3 separate regions of the Homo sapiens genome follow, and regions 1 and 2 are each linked to region 3. Evidence: fine-mapped expression QTL. A gene starts in region 3. Each other region holds a variant in brackets. All regions are shown on one strand. Distances are from middle to middle.

Region 1 (5,219 bases), 110 kb before region 3:
ACAGTGCCTTTGGGCCAGGTGACCTTATCCACACAGCAGGCAGTGGACCCTGCGGAATGGGGTGTCCCATCCTGGGGGTCCCAGCCTCGTGGGTGACAGCAGTCCGGGATCTCCTCCTGTCCTCTCAGTTGTATTCTCTTCCTCTCCTGCTCTGTTCTAAAATCCACCCAGCGCTTGGCCTTCCTCTCCCACGTCCAGTTCTTCACTTTCTCCTGAGCCCAGATGGGGCCCAGAACTCTTTCAGATGACACTTTGAACTTGCGCTCCATTGCCCTAGGCTTCTAGTGGGCCTGGGTACCTCACCGTCCCAGCCATTTGACCCTTGAATCCTGCCAGGGGCTGGCTTCCCTGATCCTTCCCTGCCCTGGCATTGTCACATTCTGGCTCTGGCTACAGCTAGTTGCATATCTGTTTTTCCTACTGTGAAGTCCCTGGAAAAGACATCTTTGCTCTCCCATCACCTAGGAGAGTGCCTAACCCATAATAGGCCATCAGGAAATATCTTTGAACAAATGAATACATATTTTATTGCATCTTTCCCCAAAACACTGTTCCTTGGAAAACAAGTGGCCTCATAAGACATTAATTGGTGTTCCATGAATAACTGAGTTTGGCATACAGATTTCCTCATGGAGAACCACAGTGCTCTTGGGCCCATAAAAGCTCTGATAAGTCCTGCAGCGAAGAAACCTGCTTAATGTTAATTCACTCAGCAGTTTAGTAAATATATTTGATCACGGGACTTTAAAAAAATGATCTTCAGAACCCAGTTAAGGAAATAATACTTTAAAGTCCTCTCAGCATCTTAGAGTATCTGGACAGAAGGTAAATCACAAGGGTTATTTTCCCAGCTCAAAGCAGTGCACAAGTGTGGCTTCCCATTTACTCTGTAACACAAATCAACATGTGCTTTCTAATTTTTTTCTTTCCTTTTTTTTTTGCCTAATGGATGAAGACACTTTCTGTTCACCTTTTGGGAACAGACACCAGCGGGGAGGAGATGGAGGGCAGGGAAGGTGTCTATGAAGAGGACTCACCCCTGTCGCTTTCTGCTTGGTGTAGGCGTATTTGTCCCGAGTCAGTCTCTCAAAACGGTAGGTTGGGGCAAACGTGATTTCTTCCTCCTCTGAAACAGAGAGACTTTCGTTTTAATTCTGATTCCCCAGGTTTTGCATCTGGCCAATTTTCCCTATTCTTCTGGTAGGAAATCAGGGGAAAGGGGACGAAAGGATGGCTGGAAAGGCTCCAAGAGGAGAGGCTGCTGCTTTTTTTTTTTTTTTTTTTGAGACGGAGTCTGTCTTTGTTGGCCAGGCTGGAGTGCAGTGGCGCGATCTTGGCTCACTGCAAGCTCTGCCTCCCTGGTTCACACCATCCTCCTGCCTCAGCCTCCCAAGTAGCTGGGACTACAGGCACCCGCCACCACACCCGGCTAATTTTTTGTATTTTTTTAAGTAGAGACGGGGTTTCACTGTGTTAGCCAGGATGGTCTCCATCTCCTGATCTCGTGATCCGCCCGCCTCGGCCTCCTAAAGTGCTGGGATTACAGGTGTGAGCCACCGCTCCCAGCCGGGGTTGCTGCTCTTACCGAAGTGTAGGAAGACCTTCTGCTCCCTCCTCTCTGTGAGCAGCTGGTCGTGGGACAGGAGGTCTGCGTACTGCTGCTGCTTGATTTTCTGGATGATGGTTTCTGCCTCCTGGAACAAGAACATGCCCGGGCCTCTGGTGAGAAGCCCTGCTGATCCAGGCCTGACAAGCTTCGGGGCTGGGGGCGGGCAGCTGGATGACCCGGGCTGCAGAGTGATGGTGGCAGGGTGGCTGTGACAGTTATGGGAACCGGGTGTGAGCACAGGGGAACCGTGAGGAGCGGCTGAGGCTCAGTAATGGAAACAGCGTTGAGCCCCCAAGGGGAGCAGCCGCCTCAGCCCACTTGATTCACATGTCTCCACGACCACCTGCCCCAAGCTGACTCAAGGGAGCCTCCATCTCATACAGCCCCAGCCCCAGCCCCAGGCGGGCAGCCCTTACCCAGGTAGGCAGATCCACACGGTAGTTAAGATCCCCAAACCAGAAGAGGTGCGTGAAGCGGTGAGTGATGTTAAAGGGACTCAGCTTCTTGTCGCCCAGGGCCAGGAACCGGAGAATGTTCATATAGTTTTGGTTTCGCCTAATGCAAGGAAAAAGCGGCCATCTAGCACGGGGTCACTGGTTCCCCCTCCACTGTGGCAGGAAGTCACTCCTGCCATAGGTGTGGGGCGAGGAGCATAGCAGGTGGGGGGAAGTGAGACTTAGCCCTCCAGCCCTGCTGCAGCAGAACTCCTTAGTGTGCAAATATGGCACAGCCAGGATGCAAAGGGCATTTGAGGCCACATTGGGTGTACAGAGGGCAGGGGACCAGGAGCAGCAGCATCTGCTCAGCAGAGAATCAGAAC[A/G]GTGAAGATTCTAGATGGCTGTCTTCATTCCTGGGCCCCAGCTAGGCAAGATCAGCTTGGATTTGTAAGGAGGCCCCAGAGGAGGCTTTCTGCTTTAGAAACAGTGCTAGTTAGCGGTCCATCAGGCTAATGACACAAGGAAATATCTTTTCTGACCTTCAGACAAAATTCCTCCACACGTGAGGTCACTATGGTGCTGCAGTTGCCTTTGATGAGACTGTGGTGGGCCCTGAAAGGCCACAGGACATCCACAAGGTCAAAGGCAGGAGCTGAGCAGGTCCTTCTGGTGCTTAAAGGTGTGAGGCGTGTCTGGGCAGACAGCCCAAATGCACACTCTTGGGGGGAAGGAGTTCCATTACCTGAGTTTCTTTTCACTTCCTGAAGTCAAGTGGCTGTTGACGAACCCTAAGGAGGTTCCATTGAACATGAACGACACCCCCACGGCTCCCTTGTTCCCTAAAAAGAAGAGCAGAAAGAAGAATCAAAATATCAAACAGACACACTTGCCAAGGGGCCAGAAATCACCCGAAGGCAGGGTGAGAGGGGCAGTGAGTGAGGAGCTGGCAAGGGATGGGCGAAACAGGGTCGTGCAGGGTGGGAGCCGCTGGGCAGAGAGCGGGAGATGAGAAAATGCAGGAGCAGTGCAGATGGCGGCAGCCTCAGCCTTCTCGGCGGGGCAGAGGAAGGTGGCTGCTGCGATCCTCCCCCGGCATCTCTCTCTAAAGTGACCAGGGTGCTAAGCGGGCAGCCAGAAGCCCTGGGAAGATTCAGAAGGTTCCAGCCTGGGTGGGCTGATCTCCCTCCCAGTGAACTCAAGTTTCCTGGGGAGACCAAAAACCCACACTGAGATCATACCTTTTTCTGCCAACGTTCTGATCTATTCTAGGTCAGTGGTTCCCAAAGGGAGTTCCCTGGACCAGCAGCTGCACATCACCTGGGAACTTCATGGAAGGGCAGATTCTCAGCCCCACCCCAGACCTACTGAATCTGAAATCCTGGGATGGGGCCCAGTAATCTGTGTTTGACAAGCCCTCCAGTGTCAGGGGTGGGCAAATGCTGGCTCACTGCCAGCTACAAATGGTTTTACATTTGTAAATGGTTGGAAACAAATCAAAAGAAAAACCATCTTTTGTCATTCATGAAAATACGAAATTCAAATTTCAGTGTTCGTAAAGAACACGTTACTGGAACACAGCCATGCCTATTGACTTCTGGATTGTCTGTAGCTGCTTTCAGACTACGATGGCAGAGCTGAAGCATTGTGACAGTTGTGTGGCCCAAAGAGCCTAGAATATTCACCATCTGGCCTTCTATGGAAAACGCTTGTTAACCCCTGCTCTAGGTGATTCTGACACATGCAGGTGAGAACCTGCTCTGTCCAATACAGGCACAGGCCACATGTGACTATCAAACACCTGAAATGTGGCTGGTACAAAATGAGACAGGTTGTGAGTGTAAAATACACATTGGAATTGTGGCCTTGGTAAGAAACACAGACTGTAAAATATCTAATAACCTTTTACATTAAATATCTATTGAAATAATTGTATTTTGGATGTATGAAATTCAATAAAATCTATTATTGAAATTAATTTCACTTGTTTTCTTTTTAATGTGGCTACTAGAAAATTTGATCTATTGATTGTAATAAATCAAATTGTAATCTATTTTGATCATAAATCTATTTATTTATGATCTATTTGGCTCCCATCATTTTCTTTTCTTCCTTTCTTTCTTTTTTTTTTTTTTTTTTTTGGAGACAGAGTCTCACTCTGTCTCCCAGGCTGGAGTGCAGTGGCGCGATCTCTGCTTACTGCAACCTCCGTCTCCCAGGTTCAAGCAATTCTCCTGTCTCTGCCTCAGGAGTAGCTGGGACTACAGGCACCCACCACCACACCCAGCTAATTTTTTGTATTTTAGTAGAGACGAGGTTTCACCGTGTTGCCCAGGTTGGTCTCAAACTACTGAGCTCTGGCAATCTGCCTGCCTCAGCCTCCCAAAGTGCTAGGATTACAGGCGTGAGCCACGGCACCCGGCCCCATTTTCTTTTGGTTGGACAGCTCTGGATAGGCCATAGGCTGAAGGGACCCCTGGATATCACCTGGCTCAACCTTGTCAGGACCCAGTGGGGGAGTACACAGGCTTTCTGCCCTCCAGCCCTCTCCACTGCACCTAGCTCTCCAGCCCTGCCCCTCTGCCCGCAACCTGGGAGGGTGACCTGGAACTGAGCAACTGGTTCCAGTCCCGACAGCCTGGTTTCAATCCCTGCCCACCACATTCTTATCCCGGGGCCTTGGGCAAGTTATGGATCATCTCCATAGACTCTGTTTCTTCATCTGCAAATGGGAATAATAAGAGTCCCTGCCCGAGTGTTTGTATTTTTTTTTCTAATTTGAGACAAAGTCTGTGTCGCCCAGGCTGGAGTGCAGTGGCAAAATCATGGCTTTCTGTAGCCTTGACCTCCCAGATTTAAGTGATCCTCCCACCTCAGCCTCCTGAGTAGCTGGGCCCACAGGCATGCACTACTATGCCATTTTTTTTTTTTTTTTTTTTGTAGAAATGGTACCTTCCTATGTTGCCCAGGCTGGTCTCAAACTCCCGGTCTCAGGAGGTCCTCCCACCTTGGCCTCCCAAAGTGTGGGATTATAGGCATGAGCCATCGTGCCTAGCAGGGTGTTTATATCAAATGAGATGATTCAAAGCATTCAGCACACAGCCTTGCTTAGGGCACACTCTTAGAAAGGCCTTGGTTGTTCTAAGGACTTTTTTTTTTTTTTGAGATAGAGTCTC
Region 2 (5,219 bases), 98 kb before region 3:
TCGTCACTCCACCCCACCTTGAGGATGCCTGAGTCAGGAAAGCAGAAGCAGAGGGGGTGACTGCAGGGAGGGGGCGCGCGGACCCACCCATGTTCCAGGTGCCGATGAAGATGGTGATCATGTCGGGCTCCGGCTGCTCTGAGTGCTTGTTCTTCATCTGCTGCAGGAGCTGGCAGAAGCCTTCTCTCTTCTAGGGATGGAAGGGCAGACAGACTTAGAAAGGCCTCTGCCTCCCTGCACATTACACTTTGCAAAGGACTTGGTCAGCTTCAAGAAAACTGAGAGGAGCGTAAATCAGTGTGAACTTCCAGGACAGCAACCTGGAAACATGTGTCCAAAGTCATAAGCGAGTGGCTTCTGGCCTAGACACTCCCCTGCAAAGGTGCGACTTTAACAAAGTGATCAGGAGCTGCGCAGAAGTCCAACCCTGTCACGGCTCTGCAGCACAGGCCTCAGCACAGAAAAAAATCAGAAGCAACCTTACTGTCCAGCCTTAGGAGATTCATTAATAATGTATCAGAGGGCCAGGTGTGGTGGCTCATGCCTGTAATCCCAGCACTTTGGGAGGCCGAGGTGGGTGGATCACCTGAGGTCAGGAGTTCGAGACCAGCCTGACCAACATGGTGAAACTCCTGTCTCTACTAAAAATACAAAATTAGCCAAGCGTGGTGGTGCTTGCCTGTAATGCCAGCTACTCGGGAGGCTGAGGCAGAAGAATTGCTTGAACCCAGGAGGTGGAGGTTGCAGTGAGCCAGGATCGCATCATTGCACTCCAGCCTGGGTAACAGAGCTAGAGTCTGTCTCAAAAAAAAAAAGTATTCTAGACCATCCATAAACTAGAATATCACAGTGTTTAACAAGTGTGATCCAGAACTATCTTGCCAACAAGGACAGGTGGCCACAATATATATTTTTAAGCATGAAAAGCTAGTTGACAAATGATATGAATAGCATCATTGCATTTTTAATAAAACATTTGGGCCTGGCACAGTGGCTCATGCCTGTAATCCCAGGACTTTGGGAGGCTGAGGCAGAAGGATTGTTTGATCCCAGGAGTTTGAGACCAGCCTGGGCAACATAGGGGAACCCTGCCTCTACAAAAAATAAAAAAATTAGCCAGGCATGGTGGTGCATGCCTGTAGTCCCTCCCAACTTAGGAGGTTGAGGTGGGAGGATTACTTGAGGCCAGAAAGTTGAGGTTGCAGTGAGCCATGATCTTGCCACTGCACTTCAGCCGGGGCAACTGAACAAGACCCTGTCTCAGAAAAGAAAAGAAACAGAAAAAGAAAGAAAGAAGGGAAGGAAGAAAGAAAGAGAAAATTAAAAAACATCTGGAAGGGGCATAGTCCCAGATTAACTCATGGTATACGAGTGTTTTTATTTTAAACATTTGCTTGTTTGTGTTTGCCACGTCTTCACCAAGGAGAATAGATTACTTATGTAATGAAAGAACATTTAAATTAAAGAAACTAATTAAAAAGAAGAGAGGACATGAAGGCTTTCATAGCCTACTCAATATTTTTCACGTATTTTTCTGGGGTACCCAGTGGGGCACCAAGCAGCCTCAGTTGGCCCTCTCTTAGGATGCAATCAATAGAGCAGGCGGACTTTAACAAAGTACACAAATTTCAGGGTGTAACATATGACATGACCAGTGTTTGACTGTTTCAACCTGCAAAGACAGAAATTTTACATGATTCAACCTTATAATTGCAAATCTCAGTAAGTCCTCCCTGAAGACACCAGCTCACAAAGATGTCATAATGACCATCTTTACTATAACCTGCCTCGAGTTGGGAGTGGCTCAAGATTCATGGCCTCCATTTATCCCTGTGCCTCAGTCCTTTTGAGGTCGCAGCAATGGGGCAGAGCTGGTGTTTGAACCTATGCCCAGGTGCTCAGAAAGCATTCCAGCCCAGCGGTCTTTCTCTCCATCTCCCACCACCTGTCTGGGCCCCATTCTCTTGTTTCTCCCAGACCCTTCCCTATTATTCCTGACAGCTCTGGACACCTTAGACCTCCCACCAGCCCACCCCTGATGCTTTGGAGGTGAAAGTAGGAGCGGAGACTGGGCACTCAGTGGGAAGCTATCACTGTGGGCCTGCACCAGAAGCGCTTGTCCCTTGGCCTTGCTGGGGGTCCCTGATGTGAGATGTCAGCCAGCACCTGATGTGATGGACACCCTTATTGCGCTGCAATCTTTTTTTTTTTTTTTTTTTTGAGACAGGATCTTGCTCTGTCATCTAGGCTGGAGTGCAGTGGTGTGATCATAGCTCACTGCAGCCTCAAACTCCTGGGTTCAAGCGATCCTCCCACTTCAGCCTCCCAAGTAGCTGAAACTACAGGCTCATGCCACCACACCCAGCTATTTTTTTTTTCGTAGAGATGAGGTCTCACCATCTTGCACAGGCTAGTCTCGAACTCTTGGTCTCGGGCAACCGTCCCGCCTCAGCCTCCCAAAGTGCTGGGATTATGGGCATAAGGCACCCACTGTGCCTGGCCTAATTTTTTTGTTTTGTAGACATGGGGTCTGACTAGGCTGTTCAGGCTGGTGCAATCCATTTTTACTGCCTCACACGAGCTGCATGGCAGAGAACAATGAATGAGGTTCACGATGATAGGTTTTGGCCCTGGTTCAAATTTCTGAGATGAGGGGTCAGGTCACAAAGAACCCA[C/T]TGTGGGGGCACAGAGGCCCAGCCTGGGTTTCCCCAGTGGCCCACAGCACCTCTTACCCCAGGAACCCATCCTGGCAGGGGCATCTCACTTCTGCAGAGCGGGGCAAAGTGTAGAAATGAAAGTCTCTGGGATGGAGCTCCAGTCGAGACTCAGATTTAAATCCAGGGGTGGCTCACACCTATAATACCAGCACTTTGGGTGACAGAGGCGGGAAGATTGCCTGAGCCCAGGAGTTCGAGACCAGCCTGGGAAACACGGCGAGACTCTGTCTCTACAAAATATAAAAAATTAGCTGGTGGTGTGTGTCTGTGGTCTCAGCTACTTGTCTCACCTCAGCTGAGGTGGGTGGGGGGATCCCTTGAGCCCAGGAGGTGGAGGCTGCCGTGAGCTGTGATCACGCCACTGCACTAGCCTAGATGGTAAAGCGAGACGCTGTCTCAAGTCAGTCAGTCAATCAATCAATCAATCAATCCAGGAGTGTCCCAAAGATTTCCCAAGTCCAGCCCAGAGAAGCTGAAAGCCTTTCCCCCAGGTGTGGGGCTGAGTTAGATGTGGGTCATAAAGGATGTGGCCTCGAGGCTGGGAGGCAGCTGGGCAAAGTGGGAAGCCTCCCTACTCCTGAGACAGTGATGGCTCAAATCCAGGCCAACCTGGAACATGATCCTCAACTTCTCTAAGTTCACCTTTCCCAGGTGTGAAATGGGTTGTTCTGGGAACTGAGTGAGCTAATGATACACTCCCTGGCACACAGCGAGCCTCAAAACGCTTGTGTCCCCTCCCTACCTCACAGCCCATTTTAGAAGTTTGCTGTCACTTACTTTGGAGTCAGCAAAAACATATTCCTTCCGCAGGATCTTCTCCTTCTCTGTTTCCACCAAGATCACCAACTTATTCAGAAATTTCTGTGACTTAATGAGCTGCAGGACTTAAGAGAAAAGAAATTCATTAATTCATTCATCCACTCATTCAACCAATATGGACGGTCTCCATTATGTTCCAGGCACCTGACTATCAACTCCCGTCCCCAAGCTGAGCCCCGAGTTTGTGTCTGGTCTCCCAGCTCCCTCTGCTTCCAGCTGCTCTTCCCAAGAGAGGCTCATGCTTGGGGAGGGTGATGTCTGGAACAAGCAAGAGTTGGCCTGTCCAGAGCAGAGACAGCGTGATCGTCTTTTCATCTTTCTCCCTGCCTCCCTCCTTCCCCTCTCTCTTCTTCCTTCTCCTCTTCTTCCTCCTCTTCTCCCTCCCTCCTTTCTTCCTTACTCTTCCTCCTTTCCTTCTTTTGCTTTGTTTTTAATTTATATCTAAATTTAATTTTACATTTTACTGTCATCAACAATTAAAAGAGTCAAGTTGTTCTATAAGGTTTTTGCAAACAATAGTCCTCCACAACCCAACCTCTCTTCAATGTCCAGCTCCCTACAGGCAACCAATTTCAACTCTCTTAATGGATTCTTTTGGAATTCTACTCTGTTTCTTAAAAAAAAAAAATGCTTAGATTAATACTTTCCGATGTTTCAGTTTTCATTATGTCCTATTACATTTTTGACTGTCCACTATGGAAGATGAGGTTGAAATTTCTTTCACACACACAACCTGCTCCCCCAACTTGACTCCCTGCCAATGCATAATTTCAGTCCCCACATCATCCTTCTAACAATTATATCATAATTTTGGCCAGATAAGTACTCAGTGTTTGTTATTCTGATTATCAAAATGCTATTGACAGACCAGCCCTGAATGTTTCTCTTTTTCTAGACAACTTTGTGTTATTCCTGGAGTTAGTAATTGCCATACTTTTTTTTTTTATTGTTTCTAATTCTTCCCCAGTTTATAACTCTCTTTTCCATGTGACCAACTACTTTCATCAGTTCCTTTGTCCTGAGGGAGCCTTTCCCAGAGCTTCTGGGTCTTCTCTGGACTGGTGACTTCAAGGGCCGAGGCACAGCCTTTACCTTGGGGCCTTACTTCATAATCCAGGAATACGTTTCTCTCTCTCGTATTAAATCCCATTTCTTGGACCCCAGGTCTTCCTCTTCTTGGTTTACACCCTCATTTTGGTAGAGCAGCATCTCTAGTGGCTTTCCAAGAAAGGAAGAATCGGTGATACATTTTTAGAGGCCTTGCGTGTCTGAGAATTCGACCCTCACACTTAACTGACAGAACTCTAAATTTGAAATAATTCTCCTCCGGACTCTGGAACCTTGTTCCATCATCTCTAGTTTTCAGGATTGCTGGAGAAACAATGTCATTCTGATTCTCTTGTTCAGAAAAGAGTTAGCACAACAGACCCGAGACTGCTGTCCTTAGAAGGGCTTGCTTGAAAGGCTGGCTTTCTGCTGTCATCTGGGAACTTAGATTTCGGGAGGGCTCCCACCACTCCCAGAGCTGATGAGTGGCTTGCTGTGCCTACATTGTTTGTACAAACAATATGGTTTATGCTGAGCACCTGTTTTCCTTTTGGGAGTCTGTAATCTGGGTACCTGCCAGGTAGAGGGTGTCTATGTGACCATTCGCCAGTTAACAACCACATTTCACACATGTTG
Region 3 (5,219 bases):
TCCTGAGACTCCAGGCACACTTGCCCAAACCATCAGGTGGAGACTCCGGCCGTTGTCCCCTTGCCCACCAGAGGGGGCCTGGGAGGGAGTGCTGCTGGGGCCCAGGCAGGATGAGGTCAGGGCACCTGGGTGATCTGAGGGGCCATGGGGCAGGTATACTTTTCCCATGGACTTTGCTAGGGCAGGAGGGTGAGTGTGTGGCTTCCTTCTGCAGTCACTTCTAGAGCAGGGTGGCTCCAGGCTTCCAGGGCTAGGGGGGCAAAGCCTGCTACTTCTGCAGCCGCAGAAAACCCGGCTGCCCTGCACACCCCTCAGCCTGGGACTGTCTGCCTCTGCCGTCTCCGTCAGGCCACGGCGACTCTGCAGGGAACACAGAAAACTAAGGGTGGTAGGGTTTGTTTTTCAAGAAGTTCAATCTCTTTGCTTTAAATGACTGGCTTTTTTTTTTTTAATGCCCTTCCTGCCTCTTTTGGTGTCAAAGGCTGCTTTCTTTCAAGAAATGAGGTGTTGGAAGATGACAGTTTGTTATCATTCATTTAATTAGTTTTTAGTTTTAAAATCTCCGTAATTGGCAAAATCCAGGGTGGCAGCCATATGAAGCCTGCAGATGTATGGAAAGTCTGCAGGTCCATAGCAACCCACGGCCTACAGTGGAGCCTGACCCTGCAGGAAGGGAAGCTTCCCACCCTGAGCAGAGGAGAAAGGGAAACACTGAGCCCAGGGTTTGTCTGGCCAAGGGGTGGGACTCCTGGTGTTTGCAGCCCAGCAGCCTCAGGATAGGAGGCTGACGAGGCTTCGGCTGAGAGGATAGTGGACATCTGTAGGCACCACAGGTCCCTCTCTAAGGAGCAGACACTGCACACCCATCATGACTCTGAGAGAACTCAGTGCAGACAAGGGTTCAGAGAGAAGAGGTAGAGGAAGGAATACGAGAACTGGCCTGGATCCCAGCAGTTTTGACCCCAGCCAGCATGGTGGACAAAGGCCTCAGGCTCTCTGCCCTCTGTCTACCTCCTGAAAAGCCAGGGCTGTTGCACCAGAGCTTCTCCAAGGCCTCTCCAGCTCTGACTCTGGCTCAGGCTAATCCTAGACGTTAAGATGCTCACGGCTCGGAGTCAGAGAGACCCACGCCCCATGTCTGTAACCTGAGCAACCACAAAGCAAGCCCTGGTCAAAGGGCTGTGTTGAAGGTTAATGAGATGGGGCCCTGGAAGCCCTCGGCTCAGCCAACACCAAACAGCCAGGACAAGATCCCACTGGGCCAGGAGAGAAATCCAAGTAACCCACATGGGCCAGGTGGAGTCAGACTGGGCTTGTGAGAGGCCTAAGAGAATCTTCCTGCTCCTTCTAAGGCCCCGGCAGCAGCAGGTCCCCACTGGGGAAGTCCAGGCAGCCTGGGCCTGCGTTCCTTCCCCTGAGGCATGAGAGAGGGGACACAGGAAACCAGTCTTTGGAGGTGGGGCTGCAGACTGTCAGCACAGGCCAGCGACCAGCTGCGAGCCTGGCTTGGTTTCCAGTGCCCCAGCTGACCCTGTAAACACTGTGGCTCCCCTTGCTTCTTTCTCCAGCCCTGCAAGGCTACATGCCTGCCCCGCTGGACTGGGAGCAGGAGAGGTTGGGCCACAGGCTGCTGGTCTCAGCTGCAGCCTCTGGGGGCAGATGGCCGTGGCTTTGACTGTTGTCACTCACTTAACCTGCCAGGGCCTCAGATTTCTCATCTGCAAAGTGGGGCTTTTAACAGGACCTTCACTTTAGGTTGTGGTGAGGATGAAATGGGCTAACAAATGCTTAGCACGACAGGTCCCAGCTGTGAGTCAGTATTCAAAACAGGTCTGGGTTCATCACCCAATTCCCCTCCTGCCTGGAGAAGCACAAGGCCCTGGCTGCTCGGGGGAACATTTCTGCCAGCCCAGGGATGCTACTTGAGATGTTCAGGTGGACACACATTTCCCTGACTACACTCCGGCACTGCCTGAGGCCCCGGCAAAATGATTAGACCAAGAGCTGCAGGGCAAGGCCCCCCTATGATTAGACCGAGAGCTGCAGGGCAAGGGCCTCCTTCAGACGCTGGACAGGAAGGGGGTTTTAGAAAGGAACCTTCAGCAAGTGGCTGGTTCCTCCATTGTTAGCACAGCTGGTACATTCAGTAACATCCCCAACCGGGCAGTGGGAGGAGTTGATGGTGACAGAGACCCAAATTGAGGGGGTGGGGGGTGGGCAGCGGTCACAGCCAAGTGCTCAGGAGAGAGAAGAGGCTGCTCGCTGGTGGTAATGGTGACTTCCTCTGCTCTCAGGCCCCTGAAAGCAGCTTCTGACTGAATGGAAAGTCCTTTCTTGATTAAACTCACCCCATATTCTTGGCTCGCCAAACAACAGCTTCCTCCAGGGGCCCGAAGCCTGGGTGCTCCAGGAAGGGTCCCCCTTGCCACCTTTGCTCTTCTCAGGGTTTCTGAGCTGGGCATCTTTGAGCTGATCTCTAACACACCCACCTCCACAGAGCCCTGAGCTTCCTCCTGGCTCCAAAAGCCCAAACTCCCTTCTCTCGGTCCCCAGACTCCAAGGAAGCCACAAGGTCCATACAGCTCATGGGAAGCTGGGGTGTAACATCAGGCCTCAGAGTGGTTCTGACAGCTCCAAGGCTGCAAAACCTGCCATGAGACCAGCTCTCTGAACTCCAAGGACAAGGTCCATGACAGGGTGGCGGGGAAGTGTGCATGTCAGATCACTCTGTCCTGTGACATAAGAACAACCCATCTCAAAGCTGGGCCCCCTCTAAGCCCCTCTGTCATATCTGTGCCCGGGGAGGGAGCAGGTTGTACTCACAGCACGCAGAGCGCGTATGCCCGGGAGATGGACTCGCTGGCACGCACGAGGAAGCTCCCGTCCTTGCCTGTCCTGGAAAGCAGCTCCTCCGCCTTGGAGCGGGTGATGTTGCCATGGTTCCAGCAGGGGACCATGGTGGGCGTGGGCCTCCTCGGCCGGGCCGGCAGGCACCCCCAGGACCCACACACCACCGAGGGGAGCGGAGGCCCCTCCACTGCAACCTGCCGCCCGTTGCCTCTTGGTGGCCTCGGCTGCTGCCACCAGCTTAACTGACTGACTTCCTGTTTCAGGCGCTCAGTGAGGGAAAGGAAACTGAGCTGCGGAGAACTTCCTCATTACAGAAACCAAGCAAGAGAGAGAGAGAGAAAGAGAGAGAGGGGGGGGCCCTGGCCGTCCACCGTCCCCTACACCCTGCCACGGCTGCCGCGGCTCTCTTGCCAGCCCTCTCCTTCCTGGCAACTGGTCGCAGCGTACAATTGAAGTGTCCAGTGGCAGCTGAAGTCCCCCTGGGTGGAATGACCGGCTCTGGAGACGTCAGGAGAGTTGTGGCCACTTCTGAAGAAGCATGGCCTAGCAGGCATGGGTGGGCCAGAGAAGTGGTTCTTCTGCGGCCGTGCTGACACCCACGTGGGATGCCATGCCCTAGACAGGCCCCCGAGCCTTCTGCTCTCCCTCAGGGCTTTTCAGCACCCACCCTGAACCTCCAAAACACCCAAGGGGGCACAGCTTCTCAACTGGGACTACGGCCTGCCCAGGACAGAGCAAACTTGAGGGGGAGGGGACAGTCGAGCCCCACCCCTCCCCTTTAGAGACTCCCAGCGGCCTGGGTGCTGGGAGACCTTGGCTGCCACCAGCCGAGGGCGCCAAGGTCCAAGTGATGGCTCTGTGACCCCATTACCCTCATTCCCAGGGGCGGGTGGGTGCTGCACGGGCAGCACAGCTCTGATCCCTGCAGTCCAGCTTGGAGACACACAAAGGGAGCTTGGAGGGGATGTGGGCCGTTTACAGCGGGAACATAGGCTGGGTTTTTCCCTGGGCTTCTCCAGGATGCTGGGGAAACAAGCTCGGAGAGGAGAACCCCAAAGCCCCACAGGGCAGGCTGGCCGCCTGGCCAAGGACAACACTGGGTGCTGAGTCCTGCGTCTCAGCAGTCGGGGTGGCCGGTCGGACTGCACCGCCTCCAAGACTGGGCATGGCCACATATGCCCACCACTCAAAGAGGAGCTGCCTCTCCAGGGACCGCCATCCAGGACCAGTCATTTCTGAGGGCTCTGCGGTGGACACCCATCCCTCAGCCCCCAGACCTGGGCACCTTCCGTCCTTGGGTCCGGCCCACCAAGGCCGAAGGGGCACGTGTTGACCCGCTGCACAAAGAGTGCCCCCACCATCCCACATCCAGGCCTTGGCCTCCAGGACATGACAACAGACTCCCTCCAGGAAGGGGCACCAGCCAGGCAGCGCCACCACATTCAAGCTGTGGGAACCTGGTCAAGTTTCTTCTCTCTCTCGGCCTTGGTTTCTTCTTGTCTAACTTGAAGGACGTAGCTCGTAAAAGAGCTCACATGTGCCCAGGGGCTCAACATGTGTCACACTGATGGTTGTCCCAGAACAGGGCCCCCAGCACCTCCCCGCTGAGCAACACACATGGCAGGCGAGTCTGTAGGGCAGACAAAGCACTCCCAGTCAAGGACCTCTGGCCAGGCTGGGAGCCAGGCGTGGGGATAGAGTGGTGATGGGAACTGGCCTCCATGCTCCGGCCCTTCCGCAGCACGCCACCTCTGCAGCAGCCCAGTGTGGAGGCCTCTCATTCCCCACCCACGCCTCCACTCAGCACCTGTCCACCCCCTCCTTATGGGGTCATCTCCTATGCTCCCATTGTGTACCTTCACACCCTTCTCACTTCCCTGCTGGCCTCCACCAACATCCATGAAGTCCTGGACCACGCCACCAGGAGGATCCATTTGCAATACTGGTCCCTTTACACCTCCACCCACTCATCTCTAGAGACCCCTACCATGCCAAGACTGCCCTACTTAGAGAGCTTCCCCCAAACCCCCAGCCCCCCACCTCTCACACCTCTATTCCCACGGTCCTTGCCATTCCACAGAGTGAGATCCCCTGGCACACACGCCACACGGGCACTCTTCCCTCATTTTTAAGGCCCATCCCAACTTTGCTTCCTTTTCCACCCAATTGCCTGATCTATCCAGCATGGTCAGCTGGCTTGTCCCCCACCCTTCTGCCCTCCACATTCAGGAAATCCCAGTATCTAGATCAGAGCTGCCCTTTTGGTGGGTGGATTTTTTTTTTTTGTAGGTCTCCAGTCAATATAAATAATTTTAACGTATTACAAAATTCACAAACTCATGTGAGGGATAGTGATTTATCAATGAAGA

Direction of the effects. Alleles are on the strand shown, and positions count from the first base shown. SD is a standard deviation of normalised expression in the study named. Not every link is listed here.
In carriers of allele T in region 2, the expression in testis of the gene that starts at base 3,094 in region 3 tends to be higher than with C alone (moderate effect, 0.68 SD a copy in GTEx).

Evidence for each region. PIP is the estimated chance that this variant, and not a neighbour inherited with it, causes the effect.
Region 1: its variant is fine-mapped to the expression of INPP5D in whole blood (INTERVAL, PIP above 0.99).
Region 2: its variant is fine-mapped to the expression of INPP5D in testis (GTEx, PIP above 0.99).

What each region holds. Positions count from the first base shown.
Region 1 is chr2:233,166,971-233,172,189 of GRCh38, reverse strand. It overlaps INPP5D (inositol polyphosphate-5-phosphatase D), which reads right to left. Exons shown (of 27, transcript NM_001017915.3): 14 at 2,789-2,885; 15 at 2,026-2,164; 16 at 1,586-1,694; 17 at 1,038-1,126. Among named protein-coding and RNA genes, the nearest start is that of ATG16L1, 82 kb to the left of the region's middle. The variant A/G (reference allele first, on the strand shown) is at 2,430.
Region 2 is chr2:233,156,695-233,161,913 of GRCh38, reverse strand. INPP5D (inositol polyphosphate-5-phosphatase D) reads right to left here. Exons shown (of 27, transcript NM_001017915.3): 10 at 3,495-3,601; 11 at 88-190. Among named protein-coding and RNA genes, the nearest start is that of ATG16L1, 92 kb to the left of the region's middle. The variant C/T (reference allele first, on the strand shown) is at 2,676.
Region 3 is chr2:233,058,217-233,063,435 of GRCh38, reverse strand. INPP5D (inositol polyphosphate-5-phosphatase D) reads right to left here and starts at 3,094. Exons shown (of 27, transcript NM_001017915.3): 1 at 2,824-3,094. The coding sequence starts at 2,957. RefSeq lists enhancers at 54-163, 176-769, 770-1,363, 2,450-2,539, 3,140-3,419 and silencers at 740-789, 2,860-2,939.